2 separate regions of the Homo sapiens genome follow, and region 2 is linked to region 1. Evidence: fine-mapped expression QTL. A gene starts in region 1. The other region holds a variant in brackets. All regions are shown on one strand. Distances are between the middles of the regions. Region 1 holds the start of CAMP (cathelicidin antimicrobial peptide). Region 2 overlaps ZNF589 (zinc finger protein 589).

Region 1 (10,308 bases):
AAAAAGAAAAAAAGAAACTTGATCTCTACCTCACATCATCAACAGAGGTGATCTCACCAACATAATATGAAGAGAGAGAAGCCAGGAAAAAGAATATGTATCATATCATTCCACTTATTTAAAGTTCAAAATCAAGTCTGGGCGTTGTGGCTCACGCTTGTAATCACAGCACTTTGGGAGGCCAAGGCGGGCGGTTCACCCAAAGTCATGAGTTCAAGACCAGCCTGACCAACATGGAGAAACCCCGTCTCCACTAAAAATACAAAATTAGGTCGGGAACGGCGGCTCACACCTGTAATCCCAGCACTTTGAGAGGTCAAGGTGGGTGGATCATGAGGTCAGGAGATCAAGACCATCCTGGCTAATACGATGAAACTCTGTCTCTACTAAAAATGCAAAAAATTAGCCAGGTGTGATGGCACGCGCCTGTAGTCCCAGCTACTTTGGAGACTGAGGCAGGAGAATTGCTTGAACCTGGGAGGCTGAGGTTGCAGTAAGCCCACACTGCACCACTGCACTCCAGCCTGGGCAACAGAGCGAGACTCTGTCTCAAAAAAAAAAAAAAAAATTAGCCAGCGTGGTGGTGCATGCCTGTAATCCTAGCTACTCGGGAGGCTGAGGCGGGAGAATCACTTGAACCCAAGAGGCGGAGGTTGCAGTGAGCCGAGATCGCCCCATTACACTCCAGCATGGGCAACAAGAGTGAAACTCCATCTCAAAAAAAAATAAAAAATAAAAATAAAAAATAAAATAAATAAAGTTCAAAATCAGGTAAAACTAGTCTGCATGCTAAAAATCAAGATACTGGGCCGGGCGTGGTAGCTCACGCCTGTAATCCCAGCACTTTGGGAGGCCGAGGTGGGTAGATCACTTGAACTCAGGAGTTTGAGACCAGCCTGGGCAACATGGTGAAACCTTGTCTCTACTAAAAATACAAAAAATAAGCCGGGCGTGGTAGTGCACACCTGTGGTTCTGGCTACTCGGGAGGCTGAAGTGGGAGGATTGCATGAGCCTGGGAGGTGGAGGTTGCAGTGAGCCAAGATCCTGCCACTGCACTCCAGCCTGGGTAACAGAGTGAGACCCCATCTCAAAAAATAAATAAATAAATAAAATGAAATCAGAAGATTAAAATGACTATAATAGCAATGAATGTATAATATTAAAATCCAAGGCCAGGTGCAGTGGCTCACACCTGTAATCCTAGCACTTTGGGAGGCTGAGGCAGGCGGATCATGAGGTCAGGAGTTCAAGACCAGCCTGCTCAACATGGTGAAACCCCATCTCTACTAAAAATACAAAAATTAGCTGAGTGCGTGGCGGGCACCTGTAATCCCAGCTACTCTGGAGGCTGAGGCAGGAGAACTGCTTGAACCCGGGAGGCAGAGGTTGCAGCGAGCCGAGATCACGCCACTGCACTCCAGCCTGGGTGACAGAGCAAGAGTCCGTCTTGAAAAAAAAAATCCAGCCTGGATTATATCTATCTGGTTCATGACGAGGGCCATCTCATTAACGCCCATGTAGACTATCAAAGAGCAAGGCAGGGCAGGGGTAATAAGAGGGTTGTCACGGTAGCAGGATGGATAATCATGGGAGGAAACTGGAAATAGATGCAGTCGGCACAGGCTCTTGGTATCCTTGTGAGTGACCCCTCCCTCAGTTTGGGCAGTGGTGTGACAGCTGGGGTTGGGGATGCTGCTTTGCAGCATTTGCAGATTTCCATGGTGTAAATACTGCCTCCCACCATGGCCAATTTTAAGCCGCCAAGAATTTAACACCGAGCTCAAAAAAGTCCTGAAAATTTAGGCCGGGCGCAGTCGCTCATGCCTGTAATCCCAGCACTTTGGGAGGTCAAGGCAGGCAGATCACAAGGTCAGGAGATCGAGACCATCCTGGCTAACACAGTGAAACCCCGTCTCTACTAAATATACAAAAAATTAGCCAGGAGTGGTGGCAGGCGCCTGTAGTCCCAGCTACTCGGGAGGCTGAGGCAGGAGAATGGTGTGAACCCGGGAGGCGGAGCTTGCAGTGAGCCGAAATCACGCCACTGCACTCCATCCTGGGTGACAGAGAGAGACTCCGTCTCAAAAAAAAAAATTCCTGAAAATTTAACAATTGGCTCTGACACAGCATATGCCCCTGAGTTTCCTCCCTAGAACTCTCTCTAGCACTCTGTAATGATACAGAGTGAGAAGCATCTACCTCCTCCAACCTGCTTGAAATCAGCCACACCTGCTCGTCATGAAGAAGCAAGCATGGGCAGGGCACAGTGGCTCACGCTTTGGGAATTGAGGCAAGAAGATCGCTTGAGCTCAGGAATTCAAGACCAGCCTGGGTAACATAGTGAGACCCCATCTCAAAAAAGAAAAGAAGAAGCAAGCATAACAGAAAACAAAGCAAGTGTTCTTGTGAGGTTTTGCCTTCTCTTCCTCTCAGAGAGGGATGCCTGTGTCTTAGTTTAGGTTGGCCTGGAAGCAGACCTGAGTTAAGGATTTAAGTGAGAGTAGTGTATTTGGGAAGCAACTACAGAAAGCACCTGCAGGAGTGTAGAGAAGTGAGACAGGGAACGAACAAGTCAGAAGAGGATGTGGTCATGAACAGGTCTTTGTTGAGGGTAGCCCACCTGGGGACCTCTGGGAGATGTGAAACACACCTCTGAGTGTGCCCCCCACGGGTGAGAAGAACAAATATTTTTCCACCAGCTCCCACCTATCATTGGTTGAGGCTGCTCCCTGGCGCATAGACTTCCCAGTACTTCCAGTTGAGCAACCCCATAGCAAAAAGCTGCAGGTGCTTCTAGTGGCTACAGAATGGTGAGTGGGGAGAACACGATCCATGTCTGAAACACCAGCACAACAGAGTCGCGACCTGTGTGTCACACTCTGCATGTCTCTTCTAGCCACAGCACCTCACTCCACTGAGCAGGATTCTCCTTTTTTTGTTTGTTTGCTTGTTTTAGAGACGAGGTCTCACTCCTTTGCCCAGGCTGGAGTGAACTAGCATGATCATAGCTCACTGCAGCCTTGAACTCCTGGGCTCAAGTGACCCTCCCACCTGAGCCTCCCAAGTACCTGGGATTACAGGTGTGCACCACCACACCCAACATATTCTTGGTCTTTGGTTTTTATTTTATTTTATTTTATTTTTTTGAGATGGAGTTTCGCTCTTGTTGCCCAGCTGGAGTGCAGTGGCACGATCTTGGCTCACCACAACCTCCGCCTCCTGTTCAGGCGATTCTCCTGCCTCAGCCTTTCCAAGTAGCTGGGATTACAGGCATGTGCCACCATGCCTGGCTAATTTTTGCCACTTTAGTAGAGACAGGGTTTCTCCATGTTGGTCAGGCTGGTCTCAAACTCCCAACCTCAGGTGATCAACCAGCCTCAGCCTCCTAAAGTGCTGGGATTACAGGCATGAGCCACCACGCCTGGCAGGTTTTTGGTTTTTATGAGCCCAGTCACCTTTGTTTCACCCTGTCACCCAGGCTGGAGTGCAGTGGCGCAATCTCAGCTCACTGCAACCTCTGCCTTCCAGGCTCAAGCAATCCTCCCACCTCAGCCTCCCGAGTAGCTGGGACTACAGGCACGCACCACCATGCCCAGCTCATTTTTGTATTTTTAGTAGAGACAGGGTTTGTTATGTTGCCCAGGCTGGTCTCAAACTCTTGACCTCAAGCAATCCACCCGCCTCGCTTCCCAAAGTCCTGGCATTACAGGTGTGAGCCACCACGTCTGGCCATATTCTTGTTTTTAACAATCCCTAAACACAAGCTCACAAGTTAAATCTGCTACCCACCTGAAGAAACTGTGATGTGTCCCAATGCCAGAGGAAATGCCAGGAGTTATGGGCTTTCCTGAGTTAAGTCTTTTAGGAAGCATTGGAATTTTATGGGAATTGTACCTGCAGGGAGACCGCACCCAGTTGGCCAGCCACCCATGGGACTGGACCATGCTTCTCTGAGTGTTAACAACACGCTTGGCCCCTCCCTTGAATGTCACCTCCCCATGAGCAGGAACAGCTCCACAGCATTCCCCCACCACCACACACAGAGTAGAGCTCCTTAATTCCCCACTGGGGGTTCCACTGAGAATGGGAATGCCATCTTGGATCTCTTGGCCCTACTGCCTTACCCTGTGTCCTCCTGGATGGAACACTGCCCTCGCCACCTCTGTGTCACACTCACACACACTCACACTCACACGTGGACTCCCTGAGCTAAGGGCTCAGTTGTGGTGAGAGAGAGGAGGCAAAACAAGTGAGACTGAAGCCTGAGGAAATTGCTCTCATAGTTTATTTCTCAGAGCCCAGAAGCCTGAGCCAGGGTAGGGCACACACTAGGACTCTGTCCTGGGTACAAGATTCCGCAAAAAATCCTTGATTCTCTGGACAATTCTTTTAAACTCTTTGCCAATCTTCTCTTTAGATTTCCGGAAGAAATCACCCAGCAGGGCAAATCTCTTGTTATCCTGGGGTTGTGTACAGGAAGAAACAGGTTCCTTGTCGGGGATGTACCCAGGGTCAATCCAAGACCCCTCCCCACCTAGACGCCCCTCTTCGTGGGCCCCCGCAGGAGCTTTGGGGCCCCAGTTCAACCTCTGGCTGTGACCTTTGAAGCATGTGATTGAATCCCTACACCCAATAAAAAGATGAGAAAACAGAGTCCCGGAGATAGTGAGGGGCTCTGCAGGGTCACACAGCCCAGCCCAGCAACACTGAGATGGGAACACAGGGCTGAGAGCTGAGTACTCTTAGACAGTGGCTCTCAAACTTTACAGAAGCCGGAATCTCCTGGAAAGCTTATCAAAATACGAATTTCTGGGCCCTACCCAGAGTCTGTCTGAGTAGGTCTGAGTAGGGCCTGAGAATTTGCATATCTAACGAGTCCCCAGGAAGGGCTACACTTGGAGATCTACCGCTCTAAGGGATTCCAGAGCCGGCCCTGGAGATGGAACTCAGGTTTGGGGAAGAGCCCTGGGTAGGAGGGGCTTTCTCTGTCCTGGGTTGGGGGAGTAGTTAATTGACCCATTGGATGGTCCACACTCTATGCCCCCATCAGCCCCTGCATCCCAGAACAGCCCACTCACCTTATCACAACTGATGTCAAAGGAGCCCCTGGCCTGGTTGAGGGTCACTGTCCCCATACACCGCTTCACCAGCTGGAAAGGAGAAGCTCAAGGTCAAACTTGAAACCATTTGCCATGACCTCCCAGCCACATCCCAGTGGGAAATATTCCCCAGGTGCCCCCTGTTCAGCTCCTTGGGAGGCACCCACCAACACCCCCAGCCCCCAGCCTCACCCCGTCCTTCTTGAAGTCACAATCCTCTGGTGACTGCTGTGTCGTCCTGGGGCACACTGTCTCCTTCACTGTGAAGCTCACAGGCTTTGGCGTGTCTGGGTCCCCATCCTAGTCAGAGGAGGAAATGGGGAGGCCCATTCTTGTATTTTCTGATTTGTGTCCATGACCTCCCCACCAAGAGGGCAGGCTTTCCACAGTACCTGATGTGCGACGGGCACTGGGTGCTGGGCTTGGCACTGGGGCATTGAGGGGAGGAGGACTGAGCCATTCCTACCCTCCTAGGTGAACAGTGAGTAGGAGCAGACCTCAGATGAGCTCTAACAAGGAGCCCCTCCCACTCTGGGGTGGGGGCAAGGGAAGTCAGGGGGCTTCCTGGGGGACAAGACATGCCCACTGGAACCTAAAGTCTGGATAGAGTTCTTCCCTATGTGGGGTAACGTGGTACAGAAGAGACTTAAAGCAGAGGAGGTCACTGCCCAGAGCCAATGACCCCATTCTAGTGCCTGGAGCTCGCAGAAGTCCCAAAACCTGCGTGGGGTCGGGGTGAGGGTATCTCTGCCACAGCAGGAATTATAAGGCAGGAAGCTCTCGAGCTGGGAGGAGACACGAGCTCTAGAAGGTTCCCTGGAAAACACGGGACCACATTTAAAGGGGGAGATGCCCTCCTGGCAGGCAGTGCAGCAGGAGCAGAAGGAACAACACGTGGCCAAGCCCAGCCAGAGCAGAGCAGAATGTCCCCCAAAGCTCACCATCGTGGGCCTGGGGTCCAGGTCCAGGAGGCGGTAGAGGTTAGCATCCGAGGACCGCTGGTTGATGCCATCTATAGCACGAAGCACAGCTTCCTTGTAGCTGAGGACCTGGGCAATGATGGCCAGAGGCATCACCAGGCCCAGCAGCAGGAGCACCAGTGACCACCGCCCCAGGGAGTGGCCATCCCTTTGGGTCTTCATGGTCCCCATGTCTGCCTCCCTCTAGCCCACAGGAGCCTCCTTTATGCCCAGCCTGAGCCTGATGCAAAAGCCCAACCAGGAGCCTTCCTGATCCACCCATCCCTGGCTGCCTGCCAGGGTGTGGGCTGGGGTTTGCTTTAGCCCCTGGCTATTGCTTCACAGGACTTGCTGGGCAGTGAGTGAGGCCTTCCTTGTGTGCAAGATGAGGAAGTGGTTTCTTCATCTCTGACAACCTCCCAGACCTGACCGGAGATTGTCATAGCCAGGGGTGCTCAAGAGCGTTAAATCCCTCCAGAGAGGAAGAGAGCCAGGTGCCTATTCTACATCCTTCTACTCCTCAGGAGTCAGTATGATGGACTGCTAAATCTCCAGCTCTAGGCATTGCCTGGCACCCTGTAGGCATCGATTAAGAATTGATGAATGAGGCAGGGCACGGTGGCTCACGCCTATAATCCCAGCACTTTGGGAGGCCAAGGTGGGCGGATCACCTGAGATAAGGAGTTCGAGACAAGCTTGGCCAACATGGTGAAACCCCATCTCTACTAAAAATATGAAAATTAGCCACGCATGATGGCTCACACCTGTAGTCCCAGCTACAAGCTGAGGCATGAGAATCACTTGAACCCATTGAACCCGGGAAGCAGAAGTTGCAGTTAGCTGAGATCATGCCACTGCACTCCAGCCTGGGTAACAGAGTGAGACTCAGTATGAAAAAAAAAAAAAAGAACTGGTAAATGAAGACAGTAGCCACCCCCAACCTAGAGACTCACTCTTGCAAGGGACAAGTTGCCCTTTCAGTTCAAGGCCATACCACATGCTCTCTGGACCCAGCCGTCAGCCAGACGAAGGCTCTGCTCCATCTATCCCCTTCTGCATCCTTCTTCACTGTTTTTTTCAGTCTCAAAATGTTCCCAAGCCCCTCCAGACATGGCCTTTCACCATGGCTTCTCCCAAGCCAAGTCTTAGGAAAGGTTGTCTACGCTTCTTGACCCCATCTTTTCACTCTTCTTCATGCTGAAGGCCACTGAAGGCTGGCCAACCCACCCTTGGTCCATGGCCACCCTCAAGCCTGGTCTTTGTCTGCACAGGCACTGGTGAGCCTTCCTTCTTGCTGCCCCGGTCTCCCCTGATGCCACTCTCCTGCTGTCCCTCCTGCCTCCCTGGTGGCTCCTTCTTGGTCTCCCCTAAGGGCTGTCTTCTTAATATTGAGAGCGTGTGGGGTCACCTCCTGGGCTGCTTCTCTTCCCTGGCCTCGGGTTTCCCTGGGGACGCCCTCTCCCAGGACACCAGTTATAATAGGCAGACACCACCCAGTCTGTATCTCTGAGTTCGAGACTCCCATGAACGTCCCGGTTGTCCCCACTGGGCCTCCTTGACTGCTCTTCTGCTGAGTGCCCACTGCATGAGCCCTGAAGCACCTTTGGCTCCTTCCTCCCGAAAGCACTCCCCTCTGGCCTCTCCTTCCACCCCTGCCTGGCTCCTGCCGCCATCTTCTCTCCCATGCAATGCTGCCCCAGCCTCCAGACTCCACCTTCTCTAGGTTTCAGGCTCTCCCCAGACCACAGTCCACCCTCCACACCGTTGTCCAGGGGTTCCTTTAAACCACCAATTTGGCCATTTCAACCCTCTACCTTCAGGAGCCCACACACCCCCTAGGCTGGCATCAGGGCCTGTGGCCTTTTGGTTCCCACTGCCCTCACCCCAGCCCTGCACACTGCAAGTGCCAGACTGTCACGTATGCCCCCATCACATAGGCTCATCTGAGCCTCCTGCTCTTTCTCCCAGCTCTGCCCCGATCCTTCTGTTTGGCCTGCCCTTTCACCTCATGAAGCTTTCCCTGACCTCCAACCAGGCACAGCAATCTCCTCTTTGCCCCTACATCTTCCAGGAAGTCTCTCCTGATTCGACCTCAAATTACTCCCTGTTTGGTGCTCTAGCTGAGACACCAAGCTGGGATGGGTGGCTGGTGTTGGGAGAGGGAGAGATCACAGCCAGGAGAGATAAAGGGCCAAAGTGATAGAGGGGTCCAGCGTCCATGAGGCAAATTCCGGTCCCAGCTCCTCTGTGGACTGGCCATGTGGCCCTGAGGCCTGGGGTACCTCTTGACCTCAGTTGGCCTGTGGGACACTTGGGGGCTTGGACAGCAGGGCTCCTGGAAGGTGGAAGCCTGGACGAAGGCCACCGGTTGCACACCTGGCCTTGAGAGAAGGAAGAAGTGGGCTTCTGTGCAACCTGGTTTCACAGTTCAAGTGTTGCCCCAGTGGCCTGTTGGTCAAGCAGGGCTTGCACATCAGGTCTTTTATGGCTGTTGGGAAAAGGGCCATCCAGGGATATCAGACCTCTCAGGGCTCTCCTGCTTCCTCCACCCTTCTGACTGGCTTCAGGATCCCCAAGAAGCCAAACCGGGGAGAAGCAGATGGCAATGTTAGTCCTTAGGCTAGGGCGTGAGAGCTGCATGCTCCTGTGTTCCTCTAGGTCAGATCTGGCATATTCAGAGCCCCTTTCCAACTGCCTCAAGAGGACGTTCCACTTCGGCCAGTGCTGGACACGCCCTCACATGAAATCAGCCAGAGCCCAAGCAGCTTGCATAGGCCCTCTGATACAACTGCAGAAGTCTGGACTCAGGGGCACTTGCTTTCCCTCTCAGGGCCATCGCACAAGGTCCAGGCTTCCCAGGTTCCAGGAGTGAGTCCTGCCCTCGGCACATGCAGGTCGGTGTCCACTACCTGAGGTAGGGCGGCTGACTTCAGACCTTTAGAACCCATGGCTGCCCCTTCCTCCTAGAGAGGGAGAAAGGAGGCTCTCACCAGCTCGCCTTTTTCATAATGGCTCACCCCATTAATAGAGTGATCAGAAGATTCTAGGCAAGGCGGAATGAGAAAAGAAAAGTGAGGCTTAGCCGGGCGCGGTGGCTCACGCCCGTAATCCCAGCACTTTGGAAGGCCGAGGTGGCCTGATCATGAGGTCAGGAGATTGAGACCATCCTGGCTAACACAGTGAAACCCCGTCTCTAGCTGGGTGTGGTGGCATGCGCCTGTAGTCCCAGCTACTTGGGAGGCTGAGGCAGGAGAATGGTGTGAACCCAGGAGGCGGAGCTTGCAGTGAGCTGAGATGGCGCCACTGCACTCCAGCCTGGGCAAGAGTGTAAGACTCCGTCTCAAAAAAAAAAAAAAAGTTAGGCTTTTCCACATCAAGACTTGAGGGCTAGATAAATGTCCCTTCACAAAGGCCTGGGCAGCCCCTGTCCCTCTGTCTCTCTATCTCTCTCTCTTTCCTCTCTCTCTCTGAATCTCCCACCCTGACTTCTCTAAGTGGCCCCTTCCTCTCCTGCAGACCCAGGAGGCTCCAACTCCTACACAATGTGATCAGGGAACCTGGTGCACTGGGACTGCTGAAGGCTCTGAGAGACTTTCCACAGATGAGCAGATGCTGGAGCTACCCTCTCCCACTCCACAATCCCTCCCCCATTGGCGAACAAAGCCCAGCTTAGCCCCCACTCTGCGTTCCCTCTCTGGCTCCGTGTCTGCAGCCCTGGTTGTCCTGGTGGAAGCACCCACCTCCTCAGGCCTGCTTGCCCCTGAGACAGCCTTCATCAGAATGGCCAACTTGTCTGAAAAGTAGAGAACCAAGCAGGCAGTTTGTTCATCCCCTTGGGGAGCACTGGGGAGGGAGTCCTGGGATGGGAATCCCAGGAACCATATTCGTCACCAGCCTCTGTCTCTGTGGGTGAGTCACTGTCCCTGTCCCTCCCTGTGCCCAGAATCTATAGTCAGCACAGAAAGCCCAGGGCTTTGCAGGCAAAGAGCCCAGGTTCCCTCATGAGGCTGACTGGGTTCCTGGCTCAGCCCTGCTGCGACCAGCTGTGTATCTGCATACCGATGTGTCTGCTCTCCTGCCTCCTCATCTGTAGAACAGGGATGATCATCACAATGTCTAGTTTGTAGAATTGTTGTGAGGGTCAAATACAACATGGTCTGTGGCCAGTACATGTGAATTGTTTTTGTTGTTATTAATGTGACCTGTTAGGTTAATGCTTCAGAAGTAAACATAGTGTGCTCCCAGAGAT
Region 2 (10,308 bases), 32 kb before region 1:
CAATGAGAATGAAACTCCATCTCAAAAAAAATAAATAAAATAAAATGTCCTTATTTATTGGAGTTGCACTGTGATATAAAGGAGTGGTATGTCATGATATTTGAGATTTGCTTTAAATAATTCAGCAATAAGAGAAAAAGTGATGTAGAGAGAAAGGGAAAGATGGATCAAGGATGAAAACAGTTTAACACCTGAAATGGATACAGTGAGATCCAAAGTTTCAGGGTCAAGATTAATTTGAATCAGATTATTTTAAGGCAATTTTAACATATTCTTCAGAATCAACAAAATGTATGAGCATAAAGATAAAGAGTAACAAGACCAGATGAAACAAGACCAAATCAGATTGGCCAATTGAAAGCTAACTTAAATGGATGAACCTACACTGAAACAGAAATAGGCAACTAGGATTGAAATGAGGCCAATTCAAATTAGATTAAAGCAGTGCAAAATAGGTCTAAGCAGATGCAAAGAGAACAAATCAGAACTATGTAATTCATAGCTATGCCAGATGAAGACAAACCTTGAGAAAGATGCTGAGAGAAATGTGAGGAACTTTGAAAATCTGACTCTCATCAAGAACTCAGGAATATCCAGAATAATTTTGTATTTGCTAACCTAGTAATCAGTTTTAGTTTTTAAATAAGTGAATAAAAACATGATGTATGATATCCAGTAATCTATAAAACATCAAACTGACAGATTTATACCTTAAACGTTAAACATTTCCAACTTCTAGGTCATAGAAGGCATCTCTTACTATTCTCCTCCTTGTTCTCTGTACTCCAACCACCTTGGCCTCCTTGCTTTTCCTCCAAAGGACTAGATATGCTCCTGCCTCCAGGGCCTTGGCACTGCTTTCCCCTTGTCTGGAGCAGTTTCCCACCTGACCCACATATCCAACCTCCTCACCTCCTTCAAGCCTTTGCTCAAATGTACTTCCTCATAGAGGCCTACCTTGATCATGCAATTTAAAAGTTCAGCCAGTTGCCTCCACACCCGGCACTTCAGATCTCCCTTAATCTACTCTACTTATATTTATATATATCTTATACATTTTTTTTTAGCTATGTAGCACTTATTATCCTTTGACATATATAATTTACCTATATATGCTGCTTATTGTATATTGTCAGTCTACCTATACTAGAATATAAGCTCCACGAGAGAAGAAATGCTTTATTATTCTATTCACTGATATGTTCTAAGAGATTAAAACATTGGCTGGCACACTGAATATGGTCAGTAAATACTTGAATGGAAAAATGAAGGAAGAGAACATGTCCTTACCCAATGAGACCAGATTCCTGAGATTTTCCAGCATCACTTCTTTGTATAGGTTCCTCTGCTCAAGGCTCAGTCTCTTCCACTCTGCCTCAGTGAAAAGCACAGCCACATCCTCGAAAGTCACTGGTCCCTAAATCAACCGATAAATTCATATTCATCAAGTCACCATTAAGATTCACAGTGAAAATGGAACTGGTGGTCTTGGAGCATCTAGCTACATAAGAAATTGATCTAGGCCGGGCACGGTGGCTCACACCTGCAATCCTAGCACTTTGGGAGGCCGAGGTGGGAGGTTATCTTGAGGTCAGGAGTTCGAGACCAGACTGGCCAATATGGTGAAACGCTGTCTCCACTAAAAATACAAAAATTAGCTGGGCGTGGTAGCACACGCCTGTAGTCCCAGCTACTTGGGAGGCTGAGGCAGGAGAATCACTTGAACCTGAGAGGCAGAGGTGGCAGTAAACCAAGATCACTCCATTGCACTCCAGCGTGGGTGACAGAGTGAGACTCCGCCTCAAAAAGAAAAAAATGGATCTGCTACTTGGGAGGCTGACATGAGAGGATTGCTTGAGCCCAAGAGTTCAAGACTAGCCTGAGCAACACAGTGAGACCCTGTCTCTATGAAAAATAAACAAAAATTAGCCAAGTATGGTGGTGTGCACCTGTAGTTCCAGCTACCCAGGAGGCTGAGGTAGGAGGATTGCCTGATCCCAGGAGGTCAGGGCTACAGTGAGCTGAGATCGCACCATTGCACTCCAGCCTGGGTGACCAGAGCGAGACCCTGTCTCAAAAAAACATACACCATATGCTTTTTCATCTTCAAGTCTCTTCTCTTCTAAATGAGTATTCAGTGGTGTTCTATCTTTAGTTACACTTGAAAGGTGGCATTGCCCTCAGATACCAAGGGAGTCACCAATCAACTTCTACTGAATTCAAGCATTATTTGCTCAGTGACCAACTGCTTCAGCCTATGGGTATTCCATGACACTCCTAACTTGCCCTAGATTTTTTTTTTTTTTTTTTTGATACGGAGTCTCACTCTGTCACCCAGGCCGAACTGCAGTGGCGTGATCTTGGCTCACTGCAGCCCCTGCCTACCGGGTTCAAGCAATTCTCCTGCCTCAGCCTCCCAAGTAGCTGGGACCACAGGTGCATACCACCACACCTGGCTAATTTTTTTTGTATTTTGTTTTTAGTAGCGATGGGATTTCACCATGTTGGCCAGGCTAGTCTCCAATTCCCGACCTCAAGTGATCTGCCGGCCTCGGACTTGCTTTAGAATTTTAACTTCACTCTGCAGACTTTGGGAACAGTTGCACATTATTCCCAGCTGCCTCTGATTACCCTGAGTACCTCTTCTCTGACTCAGCTTCTTCCTCCTATTCTCAGGTATACATCAATCTTCTTGTCCACCTTCCAAGTGGTCCTTGGCACTCTAGGAGTTGGTAATGTATATTCCAGGTTCTAAAGCTAAACTAATTAAGCTTCTAGCAAATCAAAGATGACAGTAGGGGCTGAAGGAAACACAGTGCAAGGCTACCAAGCCAGAGCTTCCTAGCATCCTCCCCTGAGAGCTGGACTATAAAAGAGATTTAATAAAACCCAGCACAGAAGTGCAGAAGCAGTAGAGAATAATAATGATGCTGAGCTAAGAGTAGGAAACTAGGTGTAGATACTGAAATCCTTGAGTGTGTGAGAAGTTTTGGGAGGGATGTCACATCTATAGCCAGCAGCCCAGGCAGTCAGGCCGCGTGGCACAGTGTACGAGGGAGGACAAAAAGTCTAGACAGCAGGCCAGGACCCAGGATTAGGCAGCCAAGGCCTGAGCGGGCAGTGGTGTGGGCTGCTGTCCCTTACATGCTTTCCATGACCTGCTGCTTCAGGCACATCCTGGTTCTCATATTCTCAGTGATCTTTCCCCTTTTCTTTTTATACCCCAGGTCTCATAATTTCTCTTGTTCAAGCCTTGTGTCTCTCATGTTCCAATATCCTCTCCATTTCTCTCTTGACTCCTCTTCCCCCTCTAGTTTTTCCACTGAAACATAAAACAACAGGCTCAGCTACAATGGAAGCTAGGCTTTTTGCTCAGTGGATGTAGTAGGAGCCCAATCTATGGAGTCAGACCGCACAAGTCCAAATCCCAGCTTTGCCACTTATACAATACATGACCTTTGGAAGCTTACATAACCTCTCTGTGTCTTAGTTTCCACATCTATAAAATGGGCTTGATAATGACACCTACTGTCTTAATAAAGATAAAGCACTGACATCAATGCCTCACATGCAGTAAACACTTGCTATTACAATTTGCTATAACTAAGCAATAGAATGTTTTATATTTAAGTGAAAACTGATTTTTAAAATAAGTAAATAATTTTTGGTTCTCAAAAAGTAATCAAACATTCTGTCCAGTACAAGGCAAGAAGAGGAAGTAAAAAGCACAGAGACTGGTAAGGAAGAGATAAAATTACCCCTATTTGCCAAGGACACGGTTTTCTATGTAGGAAATGCAAAGGAATCTATAAAAATGATCATATAACTAATAAGTGAGTCCAGGAGGACTGAAAGATACAAGATGAACACATAAAAATCCATCGTATTCATATAGATTAACAACGACCATGTGGAAACTGAAATTAAAAACATACCATTTACAATCACTCCCGCAAAAAAGAGGTGCCTAACATAACTCCAGCAAAACAACTATAACATCTGTACACTGAAAACTACAAAATGCCAATGGAAAAAAAAATCAAAGATCTAGATAAATGGGGAGGCAAAGCACGTTCATGGGTTGGAAGGCTCAACATAGTAAAGATGTCAATCTTCCCCAAAATGATCTATAGATTTAACACAATTCCCATCAAAATCCCAACCAGATTTTTTTGTAGATATAGACAACTTATCCTAATATATATGATAAGGCAAAGAAACTAGAAGAACAAAGTAAGAGAGATCACGCTACCTGATATTAAACTTACTATTTGATCACCACAATACTTGAGACAGGGTATCTATGGAAGAATAGACACACAGATCAATAGAAGAGAACCGAAAACCCAGAAAGAGATCAACACAAATACCCCAAAGTGGATTTTTGTAAAAGTAATTCAATGAAGAATAGACTTTGCAACAAATGGCACTGGACCAACTGGATATTCACAGACAAAAAAATTAACCTCAACCTAAAACCTCACACTTTATTAAAAACAAAAAACAAAAAAAATCAAAATGAATCACGAATTTAAATATAAAAATACTAGAAAAAATACAGGAGAAGATCTATATTGGGACCTAGTGCTTGGCAAAGAGTTCTTAGACATGACACCAAAACCACAATCCATTAAAAAAAATAATAATAAACCAGACTTCACCAAAATTAAAACTTTTTTCGGTGGCTCACGTCTGTAATCCTAGCACTTTGGGAGGCTGAGGCAGGCAGATCACCTGAGGTCAGGAGTTAGAGACCAGTCTGGCCAACATGGTGAAATCCCGTCTCTACTAAAAATGCAAAAATTAGCTGGGTGTGGTGGCACACGCCTGTAATTCCAGCTACTCGGGAGGCTGAGGCAGGAGAATCGCTTGAACCCAGGAGGCAGGGGTTGCAGTGAGCCAAGATCATGCCACTGCACTCCAGCCTGGGAGACAGAGCAAGACTCTGTCTCAAAACAAAAAACAAAAAACAAAACAAAAACAAAAACAAAAACTTTTTACTATAGAAGACCCCCATCTCTTCCAGAACACAAAGCAGAGGGAACATTTCCTAACCCATCCTATGAATCCAGCATTATCCTAATAGCAAATCTAGATAAAGACATTAGAAATTAAAACTACAGATCAATATATCTCACAGAGATACAATACCCCCTCCCAAAATATAAGAAAATCAAATCCAGAAATGCCCAAGAAGAATTACATACCACACTTGGGTTTATTATAGTTCTGCAAAGCTGGTTCAACATTTGAAAATCAATCATTGTGGAGGTCAGGGTTGGTTTTTCAAGATGGCGGCCTTTGAGGCTCTGGTGTCTGGCTGTGGGCAGCTTCC[G/C]TGTGGGCTCCTAGCAGGCCCAGCAGTGACCAGCTGGTCTCAGCTTCCAGCTCGTGGTTTCAGGGAAGTGGTGGAAATCCAAGAAGGAAAGACAACTATAATTGAAGGCCGTATCACAGCGACTCCCAAGGAGAGTCCAAATCCTCCTAACCCCTCTGGCCAGTGCCCCATCTGCCACTGGAACCTGAACCACAAGTAAAACTATGATGATGTTTTGCTGCTTAGCCAGTTCATCCAGCCCCATGGAGGCATGCTGCCCCGAAAGATCACAGGCCTATGACGGGAAGAGAACTGCAAGATTGAGGGGTGTGTGAAGATGGCCTACCGAGCAGGTCTGTTACCAAATCACAGGCCTCAGCTTCCTGAAGGAGTTGTTCCAAAGGGCAAACCCCAATTCAACCAGTACCTGACCCACTGGGGTCCCCGCACCCTCATGCCCATCTACAAAAAAAGGCCTCCCCTGGAACAGGGCGTTCATGGCCTTGGGGTCAACCCTCCTGAGGGACAATGTCTGCTACTCAAGGACACCTTGGAAGCTGTATCACTCACAGACAGAAGAGCTTCCAGAGTTCCTCCTGCACCTGCGCTGTGGAGTAGGAGGCGTACTCACAAGCCCTGGGCCACAACTATACTCCTGCCCCACCCCACCATGACGGCCTGGCCCCTCTGACATGTATGGACAGGGGACAGTGGGATGAACTTCAGTACCCTTGGCCTCCCCAGTAGCAATGCTGGGAGCTAGAGGCAGGCAGGGCAGTTGGGTCCCTTGGCAATTGCTGTGGGGCTTGGGCCATACTCAGTGCTGGGGACAGGAGTTTTGCCCAGTGGAATGTCATAAACTAGGCTCATGGGCTTGAAAAAAAAAAGAAAAGAAAATCAATCATTGTAATCCACCATGTTAACAGGCTAAAGAAACAAAATCATATGATCATATCATTTGATACAGAAAATACAAAACCCAACATCTAGTGATTATAAAAATTCTTAGCTGCCAGGCGTGGTGGCTTGTGCCTGTAATCCCAACAGTTTGGGAGGTCAAGGCAGGAGGATTGCTTGAGCCCAGGAGTTTGAGACCAGCCTGGGCAACATGGCAAGACCCCGTCTCTGGCCAGGCATGGTGGCTCTTGCCTATAATCACAGCACTTTGGGGGGCTAAGGCAGGCAGATCACCTGAGGTTACAAGTTCGGGACCAGCCAACGTGGCAAAACCATGTCTGTACTGAAAACACAAAAGCTAGCCAGGCGTGGTTGGTAGCACCTGTAATACCGGCTACTCGGGAGGCTGAGGCAGGAGAATCACTTGAACCCGGGAGGCGGAGGTTGCGGTGAGCCAAGATCGCACTACTGCACTCCAGCCTGGAGAAAGAGCGAGACTTTGTCTCAAAAAAAAAAAAAAAAAAAAAAAAAGTAAAAACTCTTGGCCAGGCATGGTGGCTCACGCCTGTAATATCAGCACTTTGGGAGGCCAAGGTAGGCAGATCACTTGAGGTCAGGAGCTTGAGACCAGCCTGGCCAACATGGTGAAACCCCGTCTCCACTAAAAATACAAAAATTAGCTGGGCGTGGTGGCGCACACCTGTAATCCCAGCTACTTGGGAGGCTGAGGCACAAGAATCACTTGAACCCAAGAGGCAGAAGTTGCAATGCACCAAGATGGCGCTGCTGCACTCCAGCCTGACAGGTAGAGTGAGACTGTCTTAAAAAAAAAAAAAAAAGAAGTAATAGCTCTCAGCAAACTAGAAATACAGCAGAACTTCCTCAATTGACAAAGAACATCTACAAAAAACCTACAACAAATATCCTACTTTATAGCAAGAAACTAGATGTTTTTCCTAGATAACTGGAAACAAGGCAAGGATGTCTTCTCTCACCACTCCTGTTCAACATTGTACTGAAAGTCCTAGCTATTGCAATGAGACAAGAAAAAGAAAATGTACACATATTTGAAAAGAAGTAAAGCTGTCTTTGTTCACAGATGACATGACTGTCTACATAGGAAATTCCAGAGAATCTACAAAAAGAAATAAAAAAAAAAAACCTTGGAACTAATAAGCAAACATAGAAAGGTTGCAGGATATAAGATCATCTGCTTTCCTATATGTCAACTGCTTTCCTATATACCAGCAATGAACAATTAGAATTTTAAATTTTACACACACACATACACACAGAGCACCAAAAAAATTAAATACTTAGGTTCAACTCTAACAAAACATGTACATAGTCTACATGTGAAAAACTACAAACAATGATGAAAGAAATCAAAGATGATCTAAACAAATGGTAAGACAGTCTATCTTCATGGATAGTTAGACTCAGTATTATGATATCAGCTCTTCCGATCTCAATGTATAGATTCAATGCAAACCCAGTCAAAAACTCAGCAAGCTATTTTGTACCTATCGAGAAACTGATTGTAGAGTTTACATGGAAAGACAAAAGACCTGGAATAGCTAACAAAATACTGAAGAATAAAGTTGAAGGATTCATATTACCCAATTCCAAGACTTATTATAAAGCTACATTTATCAAGACAGTGTGGTATGGGCAAAAACAAAGGCAAGTAGATCAGTGGAACAGAATAGAGTCCAGAAATGACCGACACAAACATCGACTGATTTTTTGTTTAGTTTTTTTTTTGAGACAGAGTTTCACTCGTTGCCCAGGCTGGAGTGCAATGGCACGATCTCAGCTCACCGCAACCTCCACTTCCTGGGTTCAAGCAATTCTCCTGCCTCAGCCTCCCAAGTAGCTGGGATTACAGGCATGAGCCACCACGCCCAGCTTGTTTTGTTTGTTTTTTAAGAGATAAGGTCTCGCTCTGTCACCCAGGCTGGAGTACAGTGGCATAATAATAGCTCAATGTAGCCTTAAACTCCTGAGCTCAAGTGATCCTCCCACGGCAGCCTCCCAAGTAGCTAGGATACAGGTACATGCCACCAATCCCAGCAAATTTCTTAATTTTTTATAGAGATGGGTTCTTGCTGTGTTGCTCAGACTAGTCTTGAACTCCTGGGCTCAAGCAATCCTCTCACTTGAGGAAAACATCAAACAAATCCCAAGTAAGGGACAATCTACAAAATATCTGACTAGCGCCGGGCACGGTGGCTCACGCCTGTAATCCCAGCACTTTGGGAGGCCGAGGTGGGTGGATCACGAGGTCAGGAGATCGAGACCATCCTGGCTAACACGGTGAAACCCCGTCTCTACTAAAAATACAAAAAAAAATTAGCCTAGCGTGGTGGCAGCCGCCTGTAGTCCCAGCTACTCGGGAGGCTGAGACAGGAGAATGGCGTGGACCCGGGAGGCAGAGCTTGCAGCGAGCCGAGATGGTGCCACTGCACTCCAGCCTGGGCGACAGAGCGAGACTCCGTCTCAAAAAAAAAAAAAAAAAAAGAAAAATATGACTAGTACTACCTTGGAGACGTGACAACTAAGTGTAACATGATAACCTGGATGGGATTTTGGGACAGAAAATGGTCATTAAAACTAAAGAAATCTGAATAAAGTTGGACTTTAGTTAATAACCACCATTATTATTGGTTCATTAATACTAACGGTGATGGCCGGGCATGGTGGCCCACACCTGTAGTCCAAGCACTTTGGGAAGCCAAGGCAGGTGGATCACTTGAGGTCAGAAATTTGGGACCAGCCTGGCCAACGTGGCAAAAGCCCATCTACTAAAAATACAAAAAATAGCTATGTGTAGTGGTGCACGCCTGTAATCCCAGCTACTCAGGAGGCTGAGGCAAGAGAATCACTTGAACCTAGGAAGTAGAGGCTGCAGTGAGCTGAGATTGCACCACTGCACTCCAGCCTGGGAAACAGAGGGATCTTCTGTCTCAAAAAATAAAAATAAAAAACGCCCAGATTATTAAGATAAAGATCTACATAAATGAGGAAAAAATTGTCTAAATAAATGGAGAGATACTGCGCTGATGGACCAGAAAACTCAATAATGTTAAGATATTATTCTCATGGCTGGGCGCAGTGGCTCACGCCTGTAATCCCAGCACTCTGGGAGGCGTGTGGATCACGAGGTCAGGAGATTGAGACCATCCTGGATAACATGGTGAAACCCCGTCTCCACTAAAAATATAAAAAATTAGCCGGGCAAGGTGGCAGTGGCCTGTAGTCCCAGCTACTTGGGAGGCTGAGGCAAGAGAATGGCGTGAACCCCAGGGGGCGGAGCCTGCAGTGAGCCGAGATCCTGCCACTGCACTCCAGCCTGGGCGACAGCGAGACTCCGTTTCAAAAAAAAAAAAAAAAAAAAAAAAGATATTATTCTCCCCCAAACTAATATAAAAATTCAAAGCAATTCAATCAAAATCCCATTGTACAAATTGATAAGACTTTCAATTTCAAATTGATAGATTTCAATATTTATATAAAAATGCAAAAGACAGCTGGGCATGGTGGCTCATGCCTGTAATCCCAGCACTTTGGGAGGCCGAGGCGGGTGGATCACAAGGTCAGGAGATCGAGACCATCCTGGCTAACACGGTGAAACCCCATCTCTACTAAAAATACAAAAAATTAGCCGTGCATGGCAGCCTGTGCCTGTAGTTCCAGCTACTAGGGAGGCTGAGGCAGGAGAATCGCTTGAACCCAGGAGGTGGAGGTTGCAGTGAGCCAAGATTATGCCACTGCACTTTAGCCTGGGAGACAGAGCGAGAATCTGTCTCAAAAAAAAAATAATAATAATAATAAAATTTAAGGACTTACACTACCTGATTTTAAGACTCACCATAAAGCTACTACATTAGTGAGGAGCACAATACAAATGTGAGAAGAGTTCAATGGAGCAGAACAGAGCACCGAGAAAACAGACCCACAATTGATTTTTCTTTTTTTTTGAGACAGGGTCTCACTCCATCACCCAGGCTGGAGTGCAGTGGTGTGAACATGGCTCACTGCAGCCTCAACCTCCCAGGCTCAAGAGATCCTCCTACCTCAGCCTCCCACATAGCTGG

What was found. PIP is the estimated chance that this variant, and not a neighbour inherited with it, causes the effect.
Region 2: its variant is fine-mapped to the expression of CAMP in whole blood (TOPMed, PIP 0.90).

What each region holds. Positions count from the first base shown.
Region 1 is chr3:48,219,446-48,229,753 of GRCh38, reverse strand. It overlaps CAMP (cathelicidin antimicrobial peptide), which reads right to left and starts at 6,259. Exons shown (of 4, transcript NM_004345.5): 1 at 6,042-6,259; 2 at 5,293-5,400; 3 at 5,080-5,151; 4 at 4,269-4,461. The coding sequence starts at 6,242. The coding sequence ends at 4,330. RefSeq lists enhancers at 68-567, 6,585-6,634, 6,645-6,774, 6,795-6,914 and a silencer at 6,281-6,575.
Region 2 is chr3:48,251,922-48,262,229 of GRCh38, reverse strand. It overlaps ZNF589 (zinc finger protein 589), which reads right to left. Exons shown (of 4, transcript NM_016089.3): 3 at 1,291-1,417. It also overlaps the pseudogene MRPS18AP1. Among named protein-coding and RNA genes, the nearest start is that of ZNF589, 16 kb to the right of the region's middle. RefSeq lists an enhancer at 5,360-5,930. The variant G/C (reference allele first, on the strand shown) is at 5,336.